4 linked regions of the Homo sapiens genome follow. The protein of the gene in region 2 interacts with the protein of the main gene of each other region in a pairwise test. Each region holds a gene or a part of one and is shown on either strand. Other genes may lie near its edges.

Evidence for each region. Proteins that work in one complex are often made in the same cells at the same time.
Region 1: the proteins of UBQLN1 (region 2) and RSRC2 interact in binary tests that used the Homo sapiens proteins (3 or more experiments, as listed by UniProt).
Region 3: the proteins of UBQLN1 (region 2) and RABL2B interact in binary tests that used the Homo sapiens proteins (3 or more experiments, as listed by UniProt).
Region 4: the proteins of UBQLN1 (region 2) and ODAD3 interact in binary tests that used the Homo sapiens proteins (3 or more experiments, as listed by UniProt).

What each region holds. Positions count from the first base shown.
Region 1 is NC_000012.12:122,520,437-122,523,936, reverse strand, and holds part of RSRC2 (arginine/serine-rich coiled-coil protein 2), read left to right. Parts: intron 1-1,637; coding exon 1,638-1,794; intron 1,795-2,504; exon of another isoform or gene 2,505-2,508; coding exon 2,509-2,552; intron 2,553-3,355; exon of another isoform or gene 3,356-3,425; coding exon of another isoform or gene 3,426-3,433; intron 3,434-3,500.
Region 2 is NC_000009.12:83,680,459-83,683,958, reverse strand, and holds part of UBQLN1 (ubiquilin-1), read left to right. Parts: intron 1-892; coding exon 893-1,008; intron 1,009-3,500. UniProt on the Homo sapiens protein: Plays an important role in the regulation of different protein degradation mechanisms and pathways including ubiquitin-proteasome system (UPS), autophagy and endoplasmic reticulum-associated protein degradation (ERAD) pathway.
Region 3 is NC_000022.11:50,770,322-50,773,636, reverse strand, and holds part of RABL2B (rab-like protein 2B), read left to right. Parts: intron 1-3,315. UniProt on the Homo sapiens protein: Small GTPase required for ciliation. Activated in a guanine nucleotide exchange factor (GEF)-independent manner via its intrinsic GDP for GTP nucleotide exchange ability.
Region 4 is NC_000019.10:11,422,614-11,425,121, forward strand, and holds part of ODAD3 (outer dynein arm-docking complex subunit 3), read right to left. Parts: intron 1,417-2,508; coding exon 1,264-1,416; intron 249-1,263; coding exon 88-248; intron 15-87; coding exon 1-14. UniProt on the Homo sapiens protein: Component of the outer dynein arm-docking complex (ODA-DC) that mediates outer dynein arms (ODA) binding onto the doublet microtubule. Involved in mediating assembly of both ODAs and their axonemal docking complex onto ciliary microtubules.

The DNA of each region.
Region 1 (3,500 bases), on a different chromosome or scaffold from region 2:
AATTTATGTCTTTCATCTCATAATTGAACTGCAAAACCTTTCTGTTTTTAATTTATCATTTTATTCCCTAAGTCTAGCATTGGTTTTGGCACATTTTTGACCCTTAGTAAATACTTGTTGAAGTAACTCGACCTCTCACAACTTCATTTATTAAAGTACAATACACCCATTTATTGTACTTGATACTTGTTTAAAATTTGTTAAAATACAATACCCCCATTTATTGTACTTGATATTTGGTATTCATTTTCTGGACTAACTTTCCTAAAGGAGGAAGTTCTCTAATGTGATTCCTCCTGCTGAAGACTATCGATTCCCTATTTATTCAATCCAGATTCCGTTTGATGTTATACGTGAAAAGTCCATAAACTGTTTCTGTAAAGGGCCAGACGGTAAATATTTTTGGCTTTGTGGGCCATGTGCAGTCTCTGTCACATTCTTTCCCAGGCTGGAGGGGCAGTGGCGCAATCTTAGCTCACTTCAACGTCTGCCTCATGGGTTCAAGCCATTCTCCTGTCTCAACCTCCTGAGTTGCTGGGATTACAGGCACGCCCCACCACTCTTGGCTAATTTTTGTGTTTTTAGTAGAAGCAGGGTTTTACCATGTTGGCTAGGCTGGTCTCAAACTCCTGACCTCAGGTTATCCGCCTGCCTCAACCTCCCAAAGTGCTAGGATTACAGGCATGAGCCACAACACTGGCGTTTTAAGTGCCTTTAGTTTTAACAGTTCAGTCTTTACAGTGCTATTTACTGAAGTTATTTATTAAATATGCCTAAAATAGTTTTAAAAAACGTAAAAAACCATTCCTAGCTCAAGGCCATACAGAAACAGAATGAGGACCATAGCTTGCCAACCCTTCCTAAGTAATCAATTCCCCAGGTGTATCAATTATTTTATTTTCATGTTATCTTCTCTGGTCAGATAGCCGAGCATTGTCTACCTTCTGCATTAGTTGAAACTTGTAAAATTTATATTGTAATAATTACTTATAAAATGCTTTAAAGCAGAAACAACTTAATGTTTTCATAGCCCAGAGCACATGTGAGGAGAGGCAGACCATATTTTGCAGCAGCACTGTGCCAAGGGGCTGTTTTCATTAAAGAGGGTTAATGACATTAAGATGAGGTTCTCACTTAGGTAAGTTAATTTTCTGTTTATTATTTTATAATATTCTTAGGGCATTGTTTTAAGATTTTATCGTCTTGAGTATCTTTAAGCTTTAACAACTCATTTTTGATGTTTGACATGTATGCTAATTTAAAAGTATTGGTAAAGTCAGCTAAATGCATTCACACATCTAAAAAGGACTATTTTCTCTGCTTGAATGCTTATTAGAACTACTTGGAGCCCTTATTCCTCCCCCACCCCACCCCATGTTTTAAAAGTTATACAAATCATCGTTAGAAAATTAAAGATACATCAGTCTAAATATGTAGGTCTTGCTTTAGTATCAGGTTCGTCATTTCAAGCCATTCAGCCTTATTAGTGTACAAAGCACATTTAGTTACTTGGAAAGCAGGCATTCTGATTTATTGATTGTGGGGGGCTATCTTCCCTCCCTTTGTCCCTCTTTTAAGAAATTGAAAACATTTAAAATGTAATTAAGAACTTTAATCATTTGTTTTTAAACTTTTAGGCTAGTGATACAGAGCGAGATGGACTAGCCCCAGAAAAGACATCACCAGATAGAGATAAGAAAAAAGAGCAGTCAGAAGTATCTGTTTCTCCTAGAGCTTCAAAACATCATTATTCAAGATCACGATCAAGGTCAAGAGAAAGAAAACGAAAGTCAGGTATGAATTCTTAAAGGTGGTTACAACTCTCAGCATTTGTATAAGATATGTAGACCTGTTGTATAAGAAGACACATACATTTAGTTTGTTGGCTGGGCATGGTGGCTCAAGCCTGTAATGCCAGCACTTTGGGAGGCCAAGGCAGGCAGATCACCTGAGCCAGGACCAAAAATACAAAAATTGACACACTCTCAGCCCAATGCAACCTCCATCTGCTGGGTTCAGGCAGTTCTTCTGCCTCAGCCTCCTGAGTAGCTGGGATTATAGGCGTGCGCCACCACGCCTAGCTTATTTTTGTATTTTTAGTAGAGACTGGGTTTCACCATGTTGGAACATATCAAATATAATTCAACCTGTTTATTTTCTTTAGTTTTTATTTTTCTTAATGGCTTACCTCTCTCTATTAAACCCCCTTATGAATTTGCTGTAGACTAGGAAACTAGATGGGCTGGTCAGAATATATGTAAAATACTGAAAGTCTATGACCGTTTAAAAGATGTATCTAGGCTGCTTTATGTCCTGGTTTGCTCAGATTGCTTGATTTGTTTCACATGTGTGTTGTATTAATGTAGAATAATCCCACCCGTGCCATGAAAAAATTAGTCATTGGAAGAAGACTAATGGGAGTCATTTTTCTCCAGCATTAAGAGTTTTTTAAGATGAAATGTTTCTCCAACTTTGTTTATGGTGATTATTTTTTTTGTGTATTCACAGATAATGAAGGAAGAAAACACAGGAGCCGGAGCAGAAGCAAAGAGGTAATTAACACTTTGTAGTGAATAGGTACTTTAAAATACTTATAAAGTGTCTGGTAGAAAGATTTGTATGAATATAAGACGTTGTCAAGGTAAGTACAAAACTTGAAATTTAAAAGGTTTATTGGGTTATAAAATAAGCATGATTTTGATTCATCATTTTTGAAGAAGATGTTTATGTGAAAAGTACCTTCAAAACTTTAATTTTATTATATTGTGAAAATATTCACAATAAAAATTTCATATGAAGAATATGATTGGTTTTTTTAGGCCTGTCACACAGAGCTTCCATTAATCTGAGGTCCCGAGTCTCCTGGTGCCTGACAGTTGCTCAGGATTTTTAAACAGCAATCATCTTTACATAGCAATACCCTAGATATCTGTGCGCTGCTTTTTCCTTATGAACGATAACAGGAGTTCTCTTTTCTTTTGCAAACTAGTTCAGTTTCCCTAATAGTAGTATTGAATTTTGAAATAAAGGTTTGAGTGAGGGACAGCTGAAAAGGTGGCGGTGACACCAAAACTTGAGGAAAAAGAAAGGCAGCAGCTGTATTGCAAAGGAGTTACTTGTTCACCCACCTGAGAAGACAAAGAATGAGCCAATAAGGAAGTGTAGAAGTAGTAGCCAGAAAGGGAGAAGAGTCTTGTGGGGGCTGGGTAAGGGACTCCTAAAACAAGAGTGGGCAGGGACTTCACCTCTTCCCGTAATGGAAGCTCTGTTAAATTTTTAATTTAGGAGAGTTTTTGTGAAAATGACTATTTTGTTTAGCTCACATGATAACATTTCTATAATAAATCATACTCAGCGTGCTTATGCGCGAAGAGACTGAACTGAAGACGCTGCAGACTCAGATAGCAAAATAATAAGCCTACTTCATGATAAGGTAACTATTAGTCATTCAAACTCCTATTTCCCTTAAATATATCTTAAATCAGTTAAGGGTTTTAATG
Region 2 (3,500 bases):
ACCTCCGCCTCCTGGGTTCAAGTAGTCTTCCTGCCTCAGCCTCCTGAGTACCTGTGATTACAGGCATGTGCCACCATGCCCGGCTAATTTTTGTATTTTAGTAGAGATAGGGTTTTACCATGTTGGCCAGACTGGTCTTGAACTCCTGACCTCAGTTGATCGCCTGCCTCGGCCTCGCAAAGTGCTGGGATTACAGGCGTGAGCCACCGCACCTGGCCAAGATAAAAAAGTTTTTTATATAGTCAAGCTTTGTGGGTGTAACTGGTCATTGGCTTCCCTCTTATGAGATAACCTACCTCCATCTCTTACATAAGCAATATGATTGAAACTAATGAAATATTTGTGTACATTATACTCAAAGAGGAGGGGCAATTGCAGCATATTTTGTATTTTGTAGGGTTTTATTTTATTTTGTATTTTTTGTTCCTAATGCTTAGTTTTCTCAGGCTTTTTACTAAATGATAATTTGATTTGGTCTGAGAGTTTACCCTTTATTTCTAGATGTCAGGATTTCAGTGGTTCTTTTTTTTTTTTTTTTTTTTTTGAGACGGAGTCTCGCTCTGTTGCCCAGGCTGGACGGAGTGCAGTGGCGCGATCTCGCTCACTGCAAGCTCCGCCTCCTGGGTTCACGCCATTCTCCTGCCTCAGCCTCCCAAGTAGCTGGGACTATAGGCACTCGCCATCACGCCCGGCTAATTTTTTGTATGTTTAGTAGAGATGGGGTTTCACTGTGTTAGCCAGGATGTTCTCTATCTCTTGACCTCGTGATCAGCCAGCTTCGGCCTCCCAAAGTGCTGGGATTACAGGCGTGAGCCACTGTGCCTGGCCTTTGGTGGTTCTTTTAAAAATAATCAGCTCTACTGCTTACTCTGTGATTAATTATTTTCCCTAGGCCTCAGGATCATTCAGCTCAGCAAACAAATACAGCTGGAAGCAATGTTACTACATCATCAACTCCTAATAGTAACTCTACATCTGGTTCTGCTACTAGCAACCCTTTTGGTTTAGGTAAGTGTCTTTAGTCATTCCAGTAGGGATGGGAAAAAATACTCCTTTCCCTTCCTGGGTAGTTTCAGATAAAATGAGAAAATAAAACATTATGTCACTTTAACAACAAAAATTAAAAAAAAAAAACATACATTCCTATAATTGTAGATATTAAGGAAGTAGTTGGGGATATGGATATTCTTACATATCAGTTGGCGCCTTTCTTTTTAATGATGAAAGAGATGTAGTTTGTGTATACCTGATCTGACTACCACATAATTTAGTATGAGTAAGATTAGCTGGTTATTAATCGTAAGCCAGCGTCCCTGAATAATAATTTTTTCATTTGTAAAAGGAAGGGATCAGACTGCATTAGTTATTTTGTAACTGTCCTGAACACATGGAAGGGGGTCTGGGAAGCCAGCCTCGCCTAAAACTGCTTTTGTTTTTCTTATATTAGTTTTTGTTTGTTTGTTTGTTTGTTTTTTTAAGAGAGGCAGGATCTTGCTCAGTCACGGAGGCTAGAGTGCAGTGATGCCATCCATAGCTCACTGCAGCCTCAAACTCCTGGCTTACGGTGTCCTGCTGGTGTCCCAAAATGCTGGGTTACAGATGAGAGCCACTGTGCCTGGCCTGTATTAGATTTATATATTGAGGTTCTGTGGAATATATATATATATATTTTTTGAGACAGAGTCTTGCTCTGTCGCCCAGGCTGGAGTGCAGTGGCGCGATCTAGGCTCACCGCAACCTCTGCCTCCTGGGTTCAAGCGATTCTTCTGCCTCAGCCTCCCGAGTAGCTGGGATTATAGGAGTGTGCCACTACGCCCGGCTAATTTTTTTGTATTTTTAGTAGAGACTGGGTTTCACCATATTAGCCAGGATGGTCTAGATCTCCTGAATTTGTGATCTGCCAAAGTGCTGTTATCCATTTTCTTTTGATAATAGATAGCCAAACTCAGTGGCTTATTACAACAAAGCTTCATTTCTTGCTGCATTTTTCTGCATGCTACGCTTTTTACCGGTTTGTAAGGTGCCCATCCATATAGTCCCTCAGAGACTCAAGCTAATGAAAGTCATTTTTCATTCTGCTGTATTATAGCTCTACCATTTGGAACACGGCAGAAGAGACAGCTACAGGGTTTTAAGTTGAACCTGCTATACTTTGGCCAGAAGTGGCATATATCATTTCTTGTAGTCCTTTGGCATTTCACATAGGCCTGTCCAAGTGCAAAAGAAATAATAAGGCTGCAAAATGAAATGTTTGGTGAGCACTGCTATCTGCTACTGTAGTTAGTCATACTGAAGTTTTTGTGGTTTCAAGAATGCATTAATACATTTATTTTTGTGCTTTTTGTATATGGTGTTCATTGTGCCTAGTATTCAGTCCCCCTCCTAACCTTCTTCACGTTTCCTTGCCAAAGTATTTATGCTCCAGACTCATTAAGTGTTATCTCTTCTTCTGAAAGTAGCCATTCCACTTGGGTTATATTACCATAATATCCTGTGAATATTCTTTACTGAAGTACTTAGCATCTGTATAGACATTTATTTTCTTGTCTGTCTTTCCTACTAGATTGAGTTCTGAGGATGTCTTTCTTGTTGCCTTATTCTCAATACATATGTAACACAGTCTCTGGCATATATAAAAAGTGCTCAGTAAGTGAGAACTGAATGCATTTAGTTGGTTATGTAATTTTACGAAGTAAACACTTTGTGGTAAGCACTTGGTCATCCTGTTGCTCTGTTAGGTTTCTCCTTGATTGAAGTCCTCCAAAGAGAAATCTATTTCCAGGTATTCCCTGGCTCTCTGTCTCCTTGACTGGCAGTATCAGCCCTCTTGTACCCAGTGTTTATAGGTGAATTCTGCTTCCTGTTAATAAAACTTAAACTAGTCTTTTGGAAAGATTATTAGAAGCATAGTCTGGTGTGTGTATTTATTATTTCTTCCTTTAGCTGGCATAATCTGGACTGTTTTTTCTGACACCAGCCAATTGTCCAATACCAGCTCTGTGTCCAAGATTCAGCTTCATTTCTGATACTACCTACCTACAGTTAGTGTCTGATCTCACAAGTTAGCAGACTCAGTCCTGCAAGACTGCCCCTACTTCAGATACTGGTCACAAGTTCTAGGCCATCTGTACTTCTGACTGACCAGCTCTAAGTTGGGGGTTCCCCTGACCTCCTCCTCAGGTTCAATAATTGCTAGAATGGCACCTAGAACTCAAGGAAACACTTATGTTTACCTGTTTATTATAAAGGATACAACTCAGAAACAGACAAATGCTTGGAAGATAATTATTAGGGCACAAGGTATGGGTATGTGGGGGATGGAAGTTGGGCTCAAAGGTTCCATCCAGGTTTCCTCAGCGCACAACCCTCCTAACACTCAGATGTGCTTTTCATTTTGAGTTTTCTTAATTTTATTGTTGAAGAATTTGCATAGAGCTCTATCTCCACCTCCCTACCCTTACTTTCTTGGTGGGTGGGGCTGAAAGTTTTAGCCCTTTAAT
Region 3 (3,315 bases), on a different chromosome or scaffold from region 2:
AAACTCTGCTCATTTTTCAGGCCCTGCTTCAATGCCACCACCTCCGTGCAGCCTCCTCTGATGTTTGTCATTAGCTTAGCTCTTTCGTGTGTGCTCCTGCACCACTGATCCCTTCCACAACATGGACTGTCTGTGATGCACGTGTGCAGGATGCTGGGAGTGCCCAGGTGGAAAGACACACGTGCTGCCCCCAGGAACTGACTGACTGGTAGGCACAGTACAGATACCAGTGGTGAGGACAGTGAGGATTCTTCCCTTCTGACCCTTTGCAGATGGTAAAGGAAGGAACTCATCACCTAATTCCCCCGACTGCCCCTTGAGAACAAAATCCCTTGAAAAATTCCAAAAGCTTTAACTCTGATAACTGTTAAGGCACTAAACAAGAGGATGATGGGGCAAGGAAAATGGGGGCAGTGTAGTGCAGAAGTCTGACCCTCAAGAGCAGAGGAGCTTGGTCCTAGCCAGTTTGGTTTCAGGCCTACAGTGGCATTTGGTATTTTGAGCTCACCTCTCTTTTTCTCTTGGAGTGACTGCTTCCTGCATCTGCTGCATCTCCGTGGGCTCCCCTCAGACCCTCTTCTGAAGGCCTGGGGTGTCTCTCCTGCCACCATGCCTGTGTCTGCAGGTGCCTGCCACCAGCCCCAGTCTGCTGCACGGGCCCTGGCGAGTAGAAAGCACTTGCCTTCTGACCACACGGGGAGCTGAGGGTCAGAGACGGAACCAGGGCTCGACCCTCCACCTTGAAACCTTGAGATGGGGATGCTCCTCATTCTAGCCAGCTCCTCCTCAGCTCTCAAAACAAGGAACAGATGCTCAGGAAACCAGACCTGGACAAAAGGCATCTGAGCCTGGTGTGAGGCAGATTCCAGAAGTTTAGTTACAGACATCCTTTATAAGGAGTCTTCATCGGGAATTCAAGACAACCTGGTGATTCATTGAAATTTGCCTGTGAAAGAGAATCTACATAGACTTCCTGCCACCTCTTGAGATGTGACAGTTGCTGACCCTCCCGCCACCACACAGGGCGAGCCCCTAGCCCTGAGCTTGAACCGTGTTGCTTGCACAAATAGCTGGGTGATTTAGAAGTGAGGTCAGCTGTGCCAGCGGTTACAGGGTGGTGGTTGTCTGTAACTTTAATCCACTGACTGTTGTACTAGGGCAGTTTGGGCTAGACACTTTGGAGGAGCTCCTGTGAAGGGCATGAAGGCTCACTGTAGCAGCAGCTCAGTTGTCTTTCAGAGTTCTGCCCTTAAGAGCTGGTTTGCAGTGCTCATCCTTCTTGCTGATATTTTAAAATAGGTAGAAACAGGCTGGGCGCGGTGACTCATGCCTTTAATCCCAGTACTTTGGGAGGCCTAGGCGGGCAGATCACCTGAGGTCAGGAGTTCGAGACCAGCCTGACCAACATGTTGAAACCCCGTCTCTACTAGAAATACAAAAATTAGCCAGGCGTGGTGGTGCGCACCTGTAATCCAGCTACTCAGGAGGCTGAGACAGGAGAATCATTTGAAGACAGGAGAATCGTTTGAACCCAGGAGGTGGAGGTTGCAGTGGCAGTGAGCCAAGATACCGCCACTGCACTCTAGCCTGGGCAACAGAGCAAGACTCCATCTCAAAATAAATACATAAATAAATAAAAATAAAATAGGTAAAAACAAATTATAAAGTAATACAATTATGAACTGCAAATAATAAAACATAAAAATTACTTTAAAAAAATTTAAAGAGGCCGGGCACAGTGGCTTATGCCTGTAATCCCAGAAATTTGGGAGGCCGAGGCAGGAGGATCACTTGAGACCGGGAGTCCAAGACCAGCCTCGTTAATATAATGAGAGCTTATCTCTACAAAAAATAAACAAAATTAGCCAGGCATGGTGGCATGTGCCTGTAGTTCCAGCTACTCAGGAGGCTGAGGTAGGATCACCGGAGCCCAGGGGGTGGAGGAGCAGTAAGCCAAGATTCTGCCACTGCACTCCAGCCTGGCTGACAGAGTAAGACCCTATCTCAAAAAACAAAAAGCAGAAAGAACAAAGAAGTAAACAGAAGCTTAAAAGTAAATCAGCCAGGTGCAGTAGCTCATGCCTGTAATCCCAGTACTTTGGGAGGCCTAGGCAGGCAGATCACTGCAGGTCAAGAGTTTGAGACCAGCCTGGCCAACATGATGAAACCCTGTCTCTACTAAAACTACAAAAATTAGCCAGGCATGGTGGTGCGCACCTGTAATCCCAGCTACTCCGGAGGCTGAGACAAGAGAATCACTTGAACCTAGGAAGTGGAGGTTGCAGTGGCAGTGAGCCAAGATAGCGCCACTGCACTCCAGCCTGGGCAACAGAGCAAGACTCCATATATGGAGATCCCTTGAGATCAAGAGTTCGAGACCAGCCTGGCCAACATGGCAAAACCCTGTCTCTACTAAAAATAAAAAAATTAGCCAGGCATGGTGGCGCACACCTGTAGTCCCAGCTACTGAGGAGGCCGAGACAAGAGAATCACTTGAACACAGAAGGCAAAGGTTGCAGTGAGCTGAGATTATGCCACCACACTCCAGCCTGGGTAACAGAGTGAGACTCCGTCTAAAAAAAAAAAAAAAATCAGGGGCAGTTGTGATGGCTAACACTTGTAACCCCAGCACCTTTAGAGGCCCAGGTGGGAGGATCCCTTGAGGCCAAGAGTTTGAGATGAGCCTGGGTAACATAGGGAGAGCCTGCCTCTACAAAAAAAAAAAAATAAAAAAATAAAAATTAATGCGTGCGTGCTACTTGGGAGGCTGAGGTAGGAGGATTCCTTGAGCCCAGGAGTTTTGAGGTTACAGTGAGCTGTGATTGAGCCACTGCATTCTAGCCTGGGTGACAGTGAAACCCTGTCTCTAAAAAGTAAATAAATAAATAAAAGTAAATAGTAACTAAAGTAAAACTCTAGAAACATTTACGGTTACTACAGAGGAACTTTAAAACAGTTTAAGCAATAAATACAAGAGGACTAAAAAACACAAAAGTTTTTACAATTTCTAACAGACTGCATCAATTGGCAAATTGATTCCATTTATGATTGTTAAAATAGGTGAATAAGATTAGATGACAAGATAACAAAAAAGGAATACGTTATTTATTTGTTTATTTCAGACAGAGTTTTGCTCTTGTTGCCCAGGCTGGAGTGCAATGGCATGATCTGGGCTCGCTGCAACCTCTGTCTCCCTAGTTCAAGCAATTCTCCTGCCTCAGCCTCCCAAGTAGCTGAGATTACAGGCATGCGCCACCAGGCCCAGCTAATTTTTTGCATTTTTAGTAGAGACGGAATTTCACCATGTTGGCCAGG
Region 4 (2,508 bases), on a different chromosome or scaffold from region 2:
GCAGTTTCTGCTGGCTGCAGGGAGCCGGGAGGTCACCCCGGGGGCTCAGCCCGCCCCGCCGCCCTCCCCAGAGCCCCGGTGCCTCACCTCACCAGCGTGGCCTCCCCCGAGTACTTGAGGTCTTCCAGCTCCCGCTGCAGTTGTTGCTTCTCCTGCTTCAGCCTCACCAACGTCTGCTCGTTCTCGCTCTTGAGCGTCTCCAACTGCGCGAAGGTGTCGCCCTGGGCCAGGAACCGCCGCACCAACGACTGCGGGCCACCCAGCCCCAGTCAGAGCCAGGGCCTAGGGAGCGTAGGGGCGCTCCACCTCCTCTCCCCCACCCTGCGAACCCTCGCACGCAGGACAGGTGGCCTGAGCTGGCGCCTTTTGCACAGCAATGTATGGGGACACTGTGGGTTGGACGCAGGGTTGCTTCAAGGGTGAGCAGCCCTGGATATATCATTTTTGCGGGGCCCTTTCTGGCCTATATAAGGAATTTGAGTCAGCCCAAACTCGGGGGCAACTGGAGAGGCGAGCATAGCTTCTTTCCAAAATCAAAGTGCCATCAATTTCTGGCCGTGAATCTCGCCCGATTCCGCAGGAAATACCGCCCGTCTTCGGAGCCATCCGCTCACAAGGCCCACATCTGGAAAGGGGCTGCGCCTCAGTGCCCCAGATGACCCCATAGGTGTACTCCTATAGGTGGGAGTCCCGGAAGTCATCAGGGGTCGGCCCCATCGGAGGAGCAGCAGGTTGGCGGACACCCAGAGGGGAGAAACAGGGTTGGGGTCCAGTGTTCACCGGCGGGAACCAGGACCCAAGGGGGACACAGCGGTCTTAGAATAATGCAAGGAAGACTTTACAGTGAGGGACCCGGCGCAGGGACCCCACTTGCCAGGATCTGAGGATGGTACTGGGCGGTCCACTGGGTCCCAGACCATGTTACAGACACTGGAGACAGAACAAGAGACGAAACTCCCAGTTCTCCTAGAGCTGGCATGGCAAAGGAGTTAGCATGGTGCAAGAGAGAACGGAAGGCGAGTGTAGAAATGACGGCGAGTGTAGACAGCTCCTAGGGGTTTTGCTGCGAAGGGCAGCAGAAAAACTGAACGGTAGCTGGAGGGGGAAGGGATGTTTTTCAAGAAAGGAGCAGGTTTGTGAGCTGAATAACCGACCTGGCAGAGAGGGGAGACAGGGTGTGTCGGTTTCACCGGCTTAGGCACCCCTGGGGCCCGTCTGGGGTGGGGGGGGGGCGCGGCGGAGAGGGCTGCGGGCAGAACTCACGTGCGTCTCGTCAGTGCCAGTGGCGTCCTTGACCTTGCCAAAGATCACCTCCATCTGGTACATGCTCCAGCGCTGCCGCAGCTCCTCCTCCTTGGCATGCAGGCTGTCCTGGATGGTGTCGTCGGACTGTAGCAGCAGGTGCTCGCGGTGGGTCTGCTCGTGGGTTGAGGTCAGAGCCAGGGTCAGCTGGTGGACAGCGCTTGGGAAGGAGGCCGGGGAGGGGGATCCAGATAGGGGCCCGCGAGGAACAGGGCTCAAACTGGAGGGAAGGGAGAGGGCAAAAGCTTGGGGCCAGATAAAGGCACCCGGGCAGGTGTCAAGAAAGTGGGACAAGGTCGGGCGCGGGGGCGGTGGCTGTGGCTCACGCCTTTAATTCCAGTACTTTAGGAGGCTGAGGCGGGAGGATTGTTTGAGCCCAGGGGTTCGGGACCAGCTTGGACAACACGGCGAGACCCCGTCTCTACAAAAAACACCAAAATTAGCAGGGCGTGGTGGGGCGCCTGAAGTCCCAGCTACTTGGGAGGCTGAGGTGAGAGGATCACTTGAGCCCAGGAGGTCGAGACTGCAGTGAGCTATAATTAGTCTGAGCGACAGAGACCGTGTCTCAAAAAAAAATCCATATATATATGTATATATGTATATATATGTATATATGTATATATGTGTATATATACCTATGTGTATATATGTATATATGTGTATATATACCTATGTGTATAAATATATATGTGTATATATACCTATGTGTATATATGTATATATGTGTATATATACCTATGTGTATATATGTATATATGTGTATATATACCTATGTGTATATATGTATATATGTGTATATATACCTATGTGTATATATGTATATATGTGTATATATACCTATGTGTATATATGTATATATGTGTATATATACCTATGTGTATATATGTATATATGTGTATATATACCTATGTGTATATATGTATATATGTGTATATATACCTATGTGTATATATGTATATATGTGTATATATACCTATGTGTATATATGTATATATGTGTATATGTACCTATGTGTATATATGTATATATGTGTATATGTACATATGTGTATATATGTATATATGTGTATATGTACATATGTGTATATGTATATATGTGTATATATACATATGTGCATATATACATATGTGTATATATGTGTATATGTGTATATATGTATATGTGTATATGTACATATGTGTATATATGTATATATGTGTATATGTA